2 separate regions of the Homo sapiens genome follow, and region 1 is linked to region 2. The links come from fine-mapping of genetic effects on gene expression. A gene starts in region 2. The other region holds a variant in brackets. All regions are shown on one strand. Distances are between the middles of the regions.

Region 1 (5,388 bases), 25 kb before region 2:
TCAAATCTGAAGTGCATTAAAAGTGGATAAACTCCGGAAGCAAGCAGTCCATGAGACCCCATGAGATCTAGTGCTTAGCACAGTTTTCGGCTGGGTGAATAGTTCTGGGGATGATGATGTCGATGCGGGCGTTCATTGGTTTCTTCTAAGAAGCCCAGATACTACAGACAAATCTGATGAGTGCAATTCTATTTCCATAAATGTCTGACCCAATGCAGCCAAATTAAGCAACATGGATAATTTGGAGATGTATTAAATGATAATACAATATTGGAAAATTAAAATCAAATCATTTCAAATTTTTGAAATTTCAGATTTGTGGAAGTTTATAAAGTTGTAATAAATGACAAAGATTTAATGTAGTAATTAAGAACATGAGTTCTTTAGTCATATTGCTTGGGTTTGAAATTCTGCTTTACCACTTTCTAGCTGTGTGAATTATTTATCCTCCCATGCCTCAGTTTCCTATTTTCTAAAATGAGATAGTATCTCTTTATAACAATATTGTGAATATTAACTATATATGTAAGGTATCTAGTAGCTGACACTTAGTAAGTGTTCAATAAATGTTAGCCTTTGTTATTTTGAATTAAGAATTTAATGCACAATGCCTGATTACTACGGAAAACTCGGTTATTCTGCATTCTTGAGGTGAGATGAAGTGCTATTACACACTGCCCATGTGATGCCATTAAAATGTGATTAAAGATGCCGCAGATTGGCCTACGTGATCCTACGACAATAGATTTTCAGAGGATTATCAAATATAAATGAATATTTTATGCTCTCTATTTATGACATCATTACCCATGTTAATCAAGAAAAGCCTTTATGCCCCTCCTGGTTTCCCATTAGCCAATAAATCTTCAACCTCTGTGGAAGTGATTAGAACAAAGAGAACTGTGGGCAATGTGTTTTATTCCTTCCATAGACACTGAAAAACATTGAATGGGAGCATTTTAGAAGGAATCGGTGCATTCACTATTGTTTGCACTCCTTGTGAATGGCTTGTAAAAGCTTTTCTTGGTGCTCACCTAGTTTGTATGTCTTCCCATTGTCATTCTCCTTGTCTGGCCTGTCTGCATTAACATAAAATGATGGATCTCTCTTAACTCTAAGCTAAACTTCAAAGCTCATTACTATGTATGGGGTCTGATTTCACTCCAATTTAGCATTAGTAGTCTGACTTGTAGACTTTCTAAATGAATAACAACATTTTAAATGGCCATTTGTTTGCTATGTGCTAGTCCTTCCATTTTCATGTATCTGCCAACTTCCCTTACCAGCTGGTAACAAAGGACTAGCTCCCACATTTGCATCATGAAAGAAGTCTGTAATAGCCTGTCTCTGCCCTCTCCAAGTTAGCAGCAACACACCTATAGAAGCCAATGTTAAGGATATTCTACTACCCTCTGATCCCGTGTTTAGGCTACTGGAGAGCAGGAGATAATAGGGTCATGAGTGACCTTGGAAATGATCTAATATAGTGAGATCCTTGTCAACGTTTTCTTTCACTTTTAAGAAAACAGCCCTGCTGTCTATTTGGAAAATACAGGAGATGAGGTGTGGCTTAATCGTTGAATAAAAACCAGTCAATGTCAATGTACAATTTCTGTTCTCAGGAGATCTCTTTAGAGCCAGCAAGGGATTTGGAGAAAGGACGGCAGAGAGAGGATTTCATGCAGTGCAGCTTTCAGCATCACTCTTTATTTTTGTCACTCTGGGTGGAAGAGCTTCCAGATTCAATGCCTGCCATCAGTCTTCTTTTTGAAATGAAATTTCACATAGAAGGAGAAAAACATTTTTTTAAATCAAAAGTAAGGAGATAAAAGCAACCAAATGCTATTAGGAGACAAACTGGTTTCCAAAAAAAAGTCGGTTTGCAGGTTTGAAGCTGGGAACTGTCATTGCAATGGATGGGGTGTGTGAACAGAATGTCTTTGCCACATATTTTAATTGAACATTTTTGAAACAGAAACAAATGTCAAAAAACAAAAACAAAAGTAAAAGCAAAAAAGAAGTATCTTATAACTCTGTGGCAAAGTATTCTAGTTCTGAGGTTGTTAAAACAGCTTCCTGGAGTTACCCTTCTCTCAAATCTTTTCTTCCCATCAAATGAGAAACAAAACAAAACAAAAATAAGAGAACTGGATAAAGAACTCCCAGGGTCTTGAGGCAAACACCTAAGTCTTCAATCCTTTCAATCCGCTTTCCCAGCTCTTCAGTTACTGAGTCCCCCTCTTCAGTCAGCTGCATTATTCATTTCTTCTTTTATACTCCATATACAAGGGTCTTTATTCTTGTTTCCTTCTATCATTACGATAAAAAAAACTTTGTTATTATTCTCTTAACAACAAAACATCTGCTTTCAGGGTAGCCAAAGACAAAAATGATGAGTTCTACCTTCTGCATTTTGTTATGTGATGAAACACAGAATTCCTCTAAGTCTATAAATTGCATTTCAAGCGACAGAAGAGTTTCACAGAGAGATAGAAAAGGTGCTGAGCAGTTTGCAGAGGGGTCCCAGTTGTCTCTATGCTGCAACTGTCTCTGTGTTTACCTACAGTGCCACTCTGGGGACCTGCCTTTAACAGTCTGTCTTAGGATCCTGTGTAGGGGTGTGGCAGGTCAGGTCTCACTAATGCAGGGCTTCATAACAACTGTTTCAGTACTGACTGGGTGATTAAGTTAAATATTAAAAGCTAAAAGAGCCAGTGACTTTATACAAAGGCTATAATGTAACAAAAGCCCACCAAGAGTTTTGCGAAGGCCTTTCCTGGGCCTTAAAGCATGACAAATAACAAAGGAATACTTAACAGGACCCATTTAGGATTAAACAAGTTTTGGCTGGGCATGGTGGCTCAAGCCTGTAATCCAGCACTTTGGGAGGCCAAGGCGGGTAGATCACGAGGTCAGGAGATCGAGACCATCCTGGCTAACACGGTGAAATCTTGTCTCTATTAAAAATACAAAAAATTAGCCAGGCATGGTGGCACATGCCTGTAGTCCCAGCTACTCAGGAGGCTGAGGCAGGAGAATCACTTGAACCTGGGAGGCAGATGTTTCAGTGAGCCGAGATTGCAACACTGCACTCCAACCTGGGCGACAGAGACTCTGTCTCAAAAAAGAAAAAAAAAAGTTTTGGGGGTCTGAAGAAACTCCCCAGGC[C/T]TCCACAAACAAGTTTATTAGGGGTCTAAAGGAACTCCCCAAACCTCCATGATTTAGCAGGAGAAAAGATAAGGGTAATCACGCTCGCACCTGGACCCACTTAGATTAAGTAAATTTACTGAGACTCCAGAAGAAGGTCTTCAGGGCTCAGACCTTAGTTATAGATTAAAAGACATTAATCACTTATGTCTTTATAGATGAATGCACACTTACATATAGACATATAGCTTAGAAGACATATAAGGTCTGGAAAACTTTGTAATTTTGAGTTGATCTGGTGATAATTTCCAGGTCTTCTCCCTGTAACTGGTTGTAGAAATAAACTCTCTTCCTCCCCAGTTCATCTGTATCTCATTATTGGGCCACAAGAAATAGCAGCTTGACCCTCAGTTTGGTCCAGGAAAGGGGGGAACTCTTCACATGATCTTTGCATGACAAGGAAACTCAGAAAAAACGAATGAGAGATAGGCTTTATCACAGGCATTTGTAATATTATTAATCTTCAGTGTCAGTGACAGATTAAGGACCTGCTGCAGTGTGATAGGATTCTGAGCACAGTAAATGCTTTCAGATTAGATGAGGCATCCTTAACTAGAAGGCTATGAAGAATGGAGAAGAGAGACCACGTTCTTGGTACCATGAAGTACTCTCAAAGAAACATCTAAACATCTCAACCTGTCGGGACATAACCCAGCCAGTTTACAAATGAAACTGAAGAGAAATGAAATGAAAGGAGAGGAAAAAACAAAACCACCAGATCTGCAGATTGCCAGGGGGCTGTCTCGGGTTTACTGCTCTGAGATCACATTCTCCTACCCTGAGCAAGAGCAACAGACATTGTCCTGGAAGCCTGGCAGAGGATGCCTGCTATTTTAGAGATGTTTTTAGTAAAACATCTATACTTTTCCTTCCTATTCTTCTATATCTAGTTTAATTTTTCATTAAACATCTCTCAAAAATTGGATATTGTCAGTAGTCCTCGTGCACTTTGACATACTCTAAGACTTTGGGAACCTCTAGGAATTGGGAGGAAGACAAACCTGGTTTAATAAGCTAGGGTAAATCTAAGCATTTCTTACTTCTTTGTCTTCTGCAGAGATGTCATTGACTTAGTGACAATGGCTGTTCCGTGCAGAAAAGACAAAGGCTTTTAGAGGTTCTCATTTTCCTTGGCAAGACATTGCTTTGTGTAAAGAAATCAAAGCCCTCTTAATCCCAGGCTTCAGTGAGTTTCTCTAAAAACAAAAATAAACTAATGGAATAAATGTCTAACATAGCATAAGAGAATCTGCCATTCTTTCAGCATTTTAACTCCTCTTACTGCCTTGCAAGCAGAGCTGTGTGAAAGACCTAGAAAGAGAGATCTCTGTTAGCAAAAGTGTTGGTGTTTCCTACGTAACATTCAGAGATTAGGAGATTTTAGTAAGAACTCTGGGAGCCAGAGGCAGGAATCACAGGCAAGAAATAACTCCCTCCTCTCTCTGAGGGGGAGTGATGTGGGTCTAGTTAAGTGCTATTTACAAATTGTGAAGTGTGTAGGAACTCACCACCCCCAATTTCCCATATTAATATCTTGCTAATGCAAGTGCAGTGCATTTATTACAATTTTTGAGCCAATATTTATGCATAATTATCTACTAAAAGTCTGTAATTTACATTGGGTTTCACTCTTAAGGAAGTACATTCTATGGGGTTTTAACAAAGTTTGATGCTGTGTATCCACCATTACAATTTCATACAAAGTCGTTTCATAGCCCAAAAATTTCTCTCTGCTCTGCTGACTCATTCCCCCCCACTTTAATCCCTGGTAATCACTGATATTTTTACTATATCCTAGTTTTTCCTTTTTCAAAATGTCACATAGTTGGCATATTACAGTATGTAACCTTTTCAGATTGGCTTATTTCACTTATTAATATGTGTTTATGTTTCCTCCATGTCATTTCATAGCGTTATAAGTCTCATTTCTTTTAATATTCCACTGTATAGATGTACCACAGTTTATCTATTTTCCTACTGAAGCACAACTTGGTTACTTCCAAGTTTTGGCATTTGTGACTAAAGATGCTATAAACATTCGTGTAGAGGTTTTGTGTGGATATACATTTTCAACTCATTTGGGTAAATGCCAAAGTGTGTGATTGCTGGCTTGTACGGTAAGAATATGTTTAGTTTTGTAAGAAACTGCCAAGCTTCTCACAATGTGGCTGAACCACTTTG
Region 2 (5,388 bases):
CTTTTTTGGTTTTTACAAGGCCTTCTTTGGTATAAATGTTTCCTTTTTTCATATTTTATTGTTAAATGCCTTTATCAGGTAGAGATCATTTTCTATGTTTTGGAAGTAACAAAATATATTTGTTAATAAACCATAAGTCACTGATGCTTGCTATCTAAACAGACATCATTCAAAAATGCTTAGTTGCACTATACATTATTACATGGTTTAATAAGGCATGAATAGGCAAAGGCTGGAAGCATTCCCTTGGAGAACTGGAACAAGACAAGGATGCTCACTCTCACCACTCCTATTCAGAATACTACTGAAAGTCCTAGCCAGAGCAATCAGGCAAGATAATAAAATTAAAGGCATCTAAATAGGAAGAGAGGCAGTTAAACTATCTGTCTTTGCAGAAGATATGATTCTATACCTAGAAAACCCCAAATATTTTGCCAGAAGCCTCCTGGAACTGATAAACGACTTCATTGAAGTATCAAGATACAATATCAATGTATAAAAATCAGTAGCATTTCTATACACCAATAATATCCAAACTGAGAATTAAATAAAGAATGCAGTCTTATTTACAATAGCCACAGAAAGATTAAAATACCTAGGCATACAGCTTACCATGGAGGTGAAACATCTCTACAAGAAGAATTACAAAACACTGCTGAAAGAAATAAAAAATGACACAAACAAATGAAGAAACATTCCAAGCTCATGGATTAGAAGAATCAATAATGTTAAAATGGCCAAATTGCCCAAAGAAATGTATCAATTCAGTGTTATTCTTATCAAACTATCAATGTCGTTTTTCACAGATTTAGAAAAAAGCTATTCTAAAATTCATATGAATTTTAGAGCCTGAATTGCAAAGCTAACCAGAAAGAACAAAGCCACTAGGCATCACACTACCCAACTTCAAACTATACTACAAGGCTACAATAACCAAAACATCATGGTACTGGTACAAAAACAACACATAGAACAATGGAACAGGATACAGAACTCACAAAGCTGCACAAATACAACCAACTGGTCTTCGACAGTTTTTTTTTTTTGTTTTTTTTTTTGAGATGGAGTTTCACTCTAGTCACCCAGGCTGGAGTGCAATGGCGCAATCATGGCTCACTGCAACCTCCACCTCCCAGGTTCAAGCGATTCTCCTGCCTCAGCCTTCAAGTAGCTGTGATTATAGGCACCTGCCACCAGGCCTGGCTAATTTTTGTACTTTTAGTAGAGATGAAGTTTCACCACGTTGGCCAGGCTGGTCTTGAACTCCTGACCTCAGGAGATCCACCTGCCTTGGCCTCCCAAAGTGCTAGGATTACAGGTGTGAGCCACGGCACCCGGCCAACAAAGTTGACAATAACAAACTGGGAAAAGGACTTCCAATTCAATAAATGGTGCTGGGATAACTGGCTGGTTATTTGCAGAATATTGAAACTTGACCACTTCTTTTCACCATATACAAAAACTAACTAAAGGTAAACCAAACACTTAAATATAAGGCCTAAAATAATAAAAACCCTAGAAGAAAACCTAGGAAATACCATTCTGGACATCGGCCTTGGCAAACAAATTATGACTGAGTCTTTGAAAGCAAGTGCAACGAAAACAAAAATTGACAAGTAGTACCTAATTAAATTGAAAAGATTCCACACAGCAAAATAAACTATCAACAGAGGAAAGAGACAACGTACAAAATGGGAGAAAATATTCACAAACTCTGTATCTGACAAAGGCCCAATATCCAGAATCTGTAAGGATCTTAAATAATTCAACCAACAAAAAACAACCCCATTAAAGAGTGGGCAAAGGACATAAACAGATACTTCTCAAAAGAGACATATATGTGATAAACAAATACATTTTTAAAATGCTCATTATCATTGATCATTAGAGTAATGAAAATCAAAACCATAATGAAATACCACCTCACACCAGTCAGAATGGCTATTACTAAAAAGTAAAAAAAAAAAATAGATGTTGCCAAGGCTGCAGAGAAAAGGGAACACTTATACATTGCTGGTAGAAATGTAAATTATTTCAACCACTGTGCAAAGCAGCGTGGAAATATTTCAAATAACTTAAAATGGAACTACTATTTGACCCAGTAATCCTACTACTGGGTATACATCCAAAAGAATATAAATCATTTTACCAAAAAGACATATGCATTCGTATGTTCATTACAGAGCTAGTAACCTTAGCAAAGACACAGAGTCAGCCAAGATGTCTATCAATAGTAGTCTGCATAAAGAAACTGGTACATATAAACCGTGGGATACTACGTAACCATCAAAAAGAACACAATCATGTCTTTTGCAGGGACATGAACGCAGATGGCCATTATCCTAAGCAAATTAATGCAGGAATAGAAAATCAAATAAGGCATGTTCTCATATACAAGTGGGAACTAAACATTGAGTATACATGGATACAAAGATGGGAACAATAGACACTGGGGGCTGCGTAAGGAAGAAGGGTGGGAGTGGTACATGGAATGGAAGGGTACCGATCGGGTACTGTACTCATTACCTTGGTGACAGGATCATTCTTACACTGAGCCTCAGCAACAAGCAATATCGCCATGTACCAAACCTCCACATGCATTCCCTGAACCTAAAATAAAAGTAGAGATAAATAAATAAATATAAATAATATTTATTTATTATTGGTAAATAAATGAGGCATTTATTTACCAAGACAATGTTTGTGTTCCATGACCAGTTCTGAAAAAATGGAGTTAAATACATTTATCCAAAAAATGGATAAAAATACTAGATTATTATCCTGATGCACAACAGGAACCTGTTGTGCTGTACTCATTTTGTTTAGTCACATGTTCACAAAAAAGAATTACAATTAGGAGTATTTTTTTTAAACATGAGCAAAAGCGATATTGAAGCAGTTATGGTGTCTGGGGTAAATACCTGGGGTTCATCCTCTTGCACCAAGAAAATTTAGGACACAGACACATATGAGGAGTTTAGGAGCAGAGGTTTAATGGGAAAAGAAAAAGAAAAGAAAACAGCTCTCTCTCTCTCTAGGGAGAGGGAGGAGATTTCCAAGAGGAAAGGCCAGCTGGCAGCACATGTGGTGAATTTTATAGTCAGGCTCCAGTAGGCGGTGTCTGATTTATGTAGAGCTCACAGATTGGTTCCATCAGGTGTGACATTTACATAGCCCAGGGAAGGCTGGCCACCCTACCCTAATCTTATTATGTAACTGAACTTTCCCCTTGGCCAGGGCCATCTTGTCTGCTCCTTACTGTACATGTGGCTGGCAGAGAAGGGAAGGTGGAGCCGCTATTTTGAACATGATTGGCACAACTGCCAGCATCTATATCTGCAGCTTGATTTTACAGGCTGCTCTTTGTTAGAAAGGAACATGATTTGGGGCTACTTTTCATTAAAAGGAAAACTGTACCGAAGACTTCCATACCCTCACTATCTGTGTAAGTAATTTCTTCTTCATTCCTGTACCAATATGAGATAGTCTGAGTTTGTGGGTAAGGGAATAATTGCCATACTTCTTCTTTTACCTTAAGAAACTGGTCCTCTGTGCAACTTCATTTTGCATGTAGATGTAATTTGTTTGTCTGCAAGGGAATGTACATATTTTAAACTCACTGGCTCATAACGAATGCTTCTGGAGCACTAGGGAGTTAGGGGAAGTGGCAGGTTAGGCATAGAGAAGTATGTGCAGGTTTCAGCAAAGAGCAAGAAGAAATGTGCAAGCCTTTAGGGCCATAGTCAAGGAAAGAAGATGCATCAAGAAGTTAAAATAAGTTGCAATTTCAATCACCTAAGGCAATGAAGATAAGGACTGAGAAGAAGCTACTGGGTTAATCATACAGTGGTTTGCTTGGAAATAAATATTTCACTGGAGTGATGGAAGTAGAGAAATAACTGCCCTAAGTTAATGAGTGAAAAGAAGAAGGTGAGAAAGTGGATATGATATGTACAGAGTTAACCTCCCAAAATTTTAGCTGTGAAGGGGAGGCGATGGAGGATTTCTGGAAGAGTAGAGAAGGTTCTGGAAGTTTCCCAAAATCTTGATATTCCCATCTATACAGATAGAATATTAAAAACACATTCTCCATAGTTTTATTATGGTCACTGAGTGAGATCATCTCTTTATTTATTCCATTTCATCATATAACATAGTAAAAACTTGAGTGTTAAGTATTACTATTTTTAATTTTTGACAATTTGGGATGAAAAGCACTATTTCATTACTTTTAAAATTTTTGTTTCTTTGATTACCGGTTTGTTATTAGTTTATCAGATCCATGGATTTCTTCTGTGAATTAAGAGTCTATCTCATTTGCCTATTTTTTTCTGAGTTTTATTTTGCTTATTATTTTCAGAAGGTTTTTTTATTAAAAACATTTTGTTTATATATTCTTCTGCCTGTGTCTTTTCACACTGCACATGGAAGGACACTATTTTTCACATGCTTTTACTTTTTCTTCTAACTTCACCACCTCCTGCGCTTTCTTAAAATGGAATTTTAATTACGAATGATAATTATTTTTACATTAGGCCTTTAAGTACTTAGAAATAATTTCTTAGCAACTATTTTAGGTTTTATAATCCTATTATCCCCCCATATGTTTATATTCTACAAGTAATATAAATTTTATTAGTCAGCTCTGTGCCCTGTTGGCCCTTTTATTCTAAAGGTGAATTTAAGTTCTTTGCACCATGACATTTTCTTTTTTTTAAAAAAAGTCTTTGATAATCTCATCTTTGGCAAATTGTTGTATGAATTTCTAGAACTCCTATTAGATGAATGTTGGAATTTTTAGATTTATCTTCCAAGTTTCATTATTTTTCTTCTAATATCTTTTGTTTCCTTCACACAAGTTTCCACCTTATAAATCACATTCTCACTACGTATATTATTTATAGCACTCATCTACTCTTTATTATTTTGTTTCTATAACAATATTTTAAAACTCCAAGAACTGTTGTTGAGAGGCTTCTATTTTACTATTAACCACTTTATTTTCATTTATTTTTCTTTTCCTCCTCTTCATCTTCACCTCTTGCTTCTGCTCTTCCTCATCATCCTCTTCCCCCACTTCTTTTTTTTAAACAAATTACATCTCAATTCTTGATGAGGAGTGAGGACTGTTTATGTGGAGGTTTCCCTTTTTCCACTTTATTAATTTTGCTTTCTTAGAGTTTGTTTGCGTGTGATATCTCTTCTTAGGCTGTGATTCTTGTTTGTCTGTAAATATTTGTGGATAGTCGAAGTAGAATATATTACTAGCTCAAGTCTATTTTCTCATTTTTCAGGGAATCCCTGGAAAGAAATGAAGCTTCACACTCAGAATATCACATTTAGTGATTTCAGGAGACCAGCAGAATAGGAATTAAGCTGGAACTCCTA

Alleles and levels. Alleles are on the strand shown, and positions count from the first base shown. SD is a standard deviation of normalised expression in the study named.
With allele C in place of T in region 1, the expression in skeletal muscle of the gene that starts at base 3,165 in region 2 is higher (moderate effect, 0.61 SD a copy in GTEx).

The links. PIP is the estimated chance that this variant, and not a neighbour inherited with it, causes the effect. A credible set is the group of variants that fine-mapping cannot tell apart.
Region 1: its variant is the best candidate, but not a certain one, in a credible set for the expression of LINC01886 in skeletal muscle (GTEx, PIP 0.85).

The regions. Positions count from the first base shown.
Region 1 is chr2:107,501,543-107,506,930 of GRCh38, forward strand. The region is part of intron 2 of LINC01885 (long intergenic non-protein coding RNA 1885); the gene reads right to left. Among named protein-coding and RNA genes, the nearest start is that of LINC01886, 25 kb to the right of the region's middle. RefSeq lists enhancers at 622-1,356, 1,357-2,090. The variant C/T (reference allele first, on the strand shown) is at 3,169.
Region 2 is chr2:107,526,255-107,531,642 of GRCh38, forward strand. LINC01886 (long intergenic non-protein coding RNA 1886) reads left to right here and starts at 3,165. Exons shown (of 3, transcript NR_146968.1): 1 at 3,165-3,445. It overlaps LINC01885 (long intergenic non-protein coding RNA 1885), which reads right to left. Exons shown (of 6, transcript NR_183423.1): 2 at 2,527-2,610.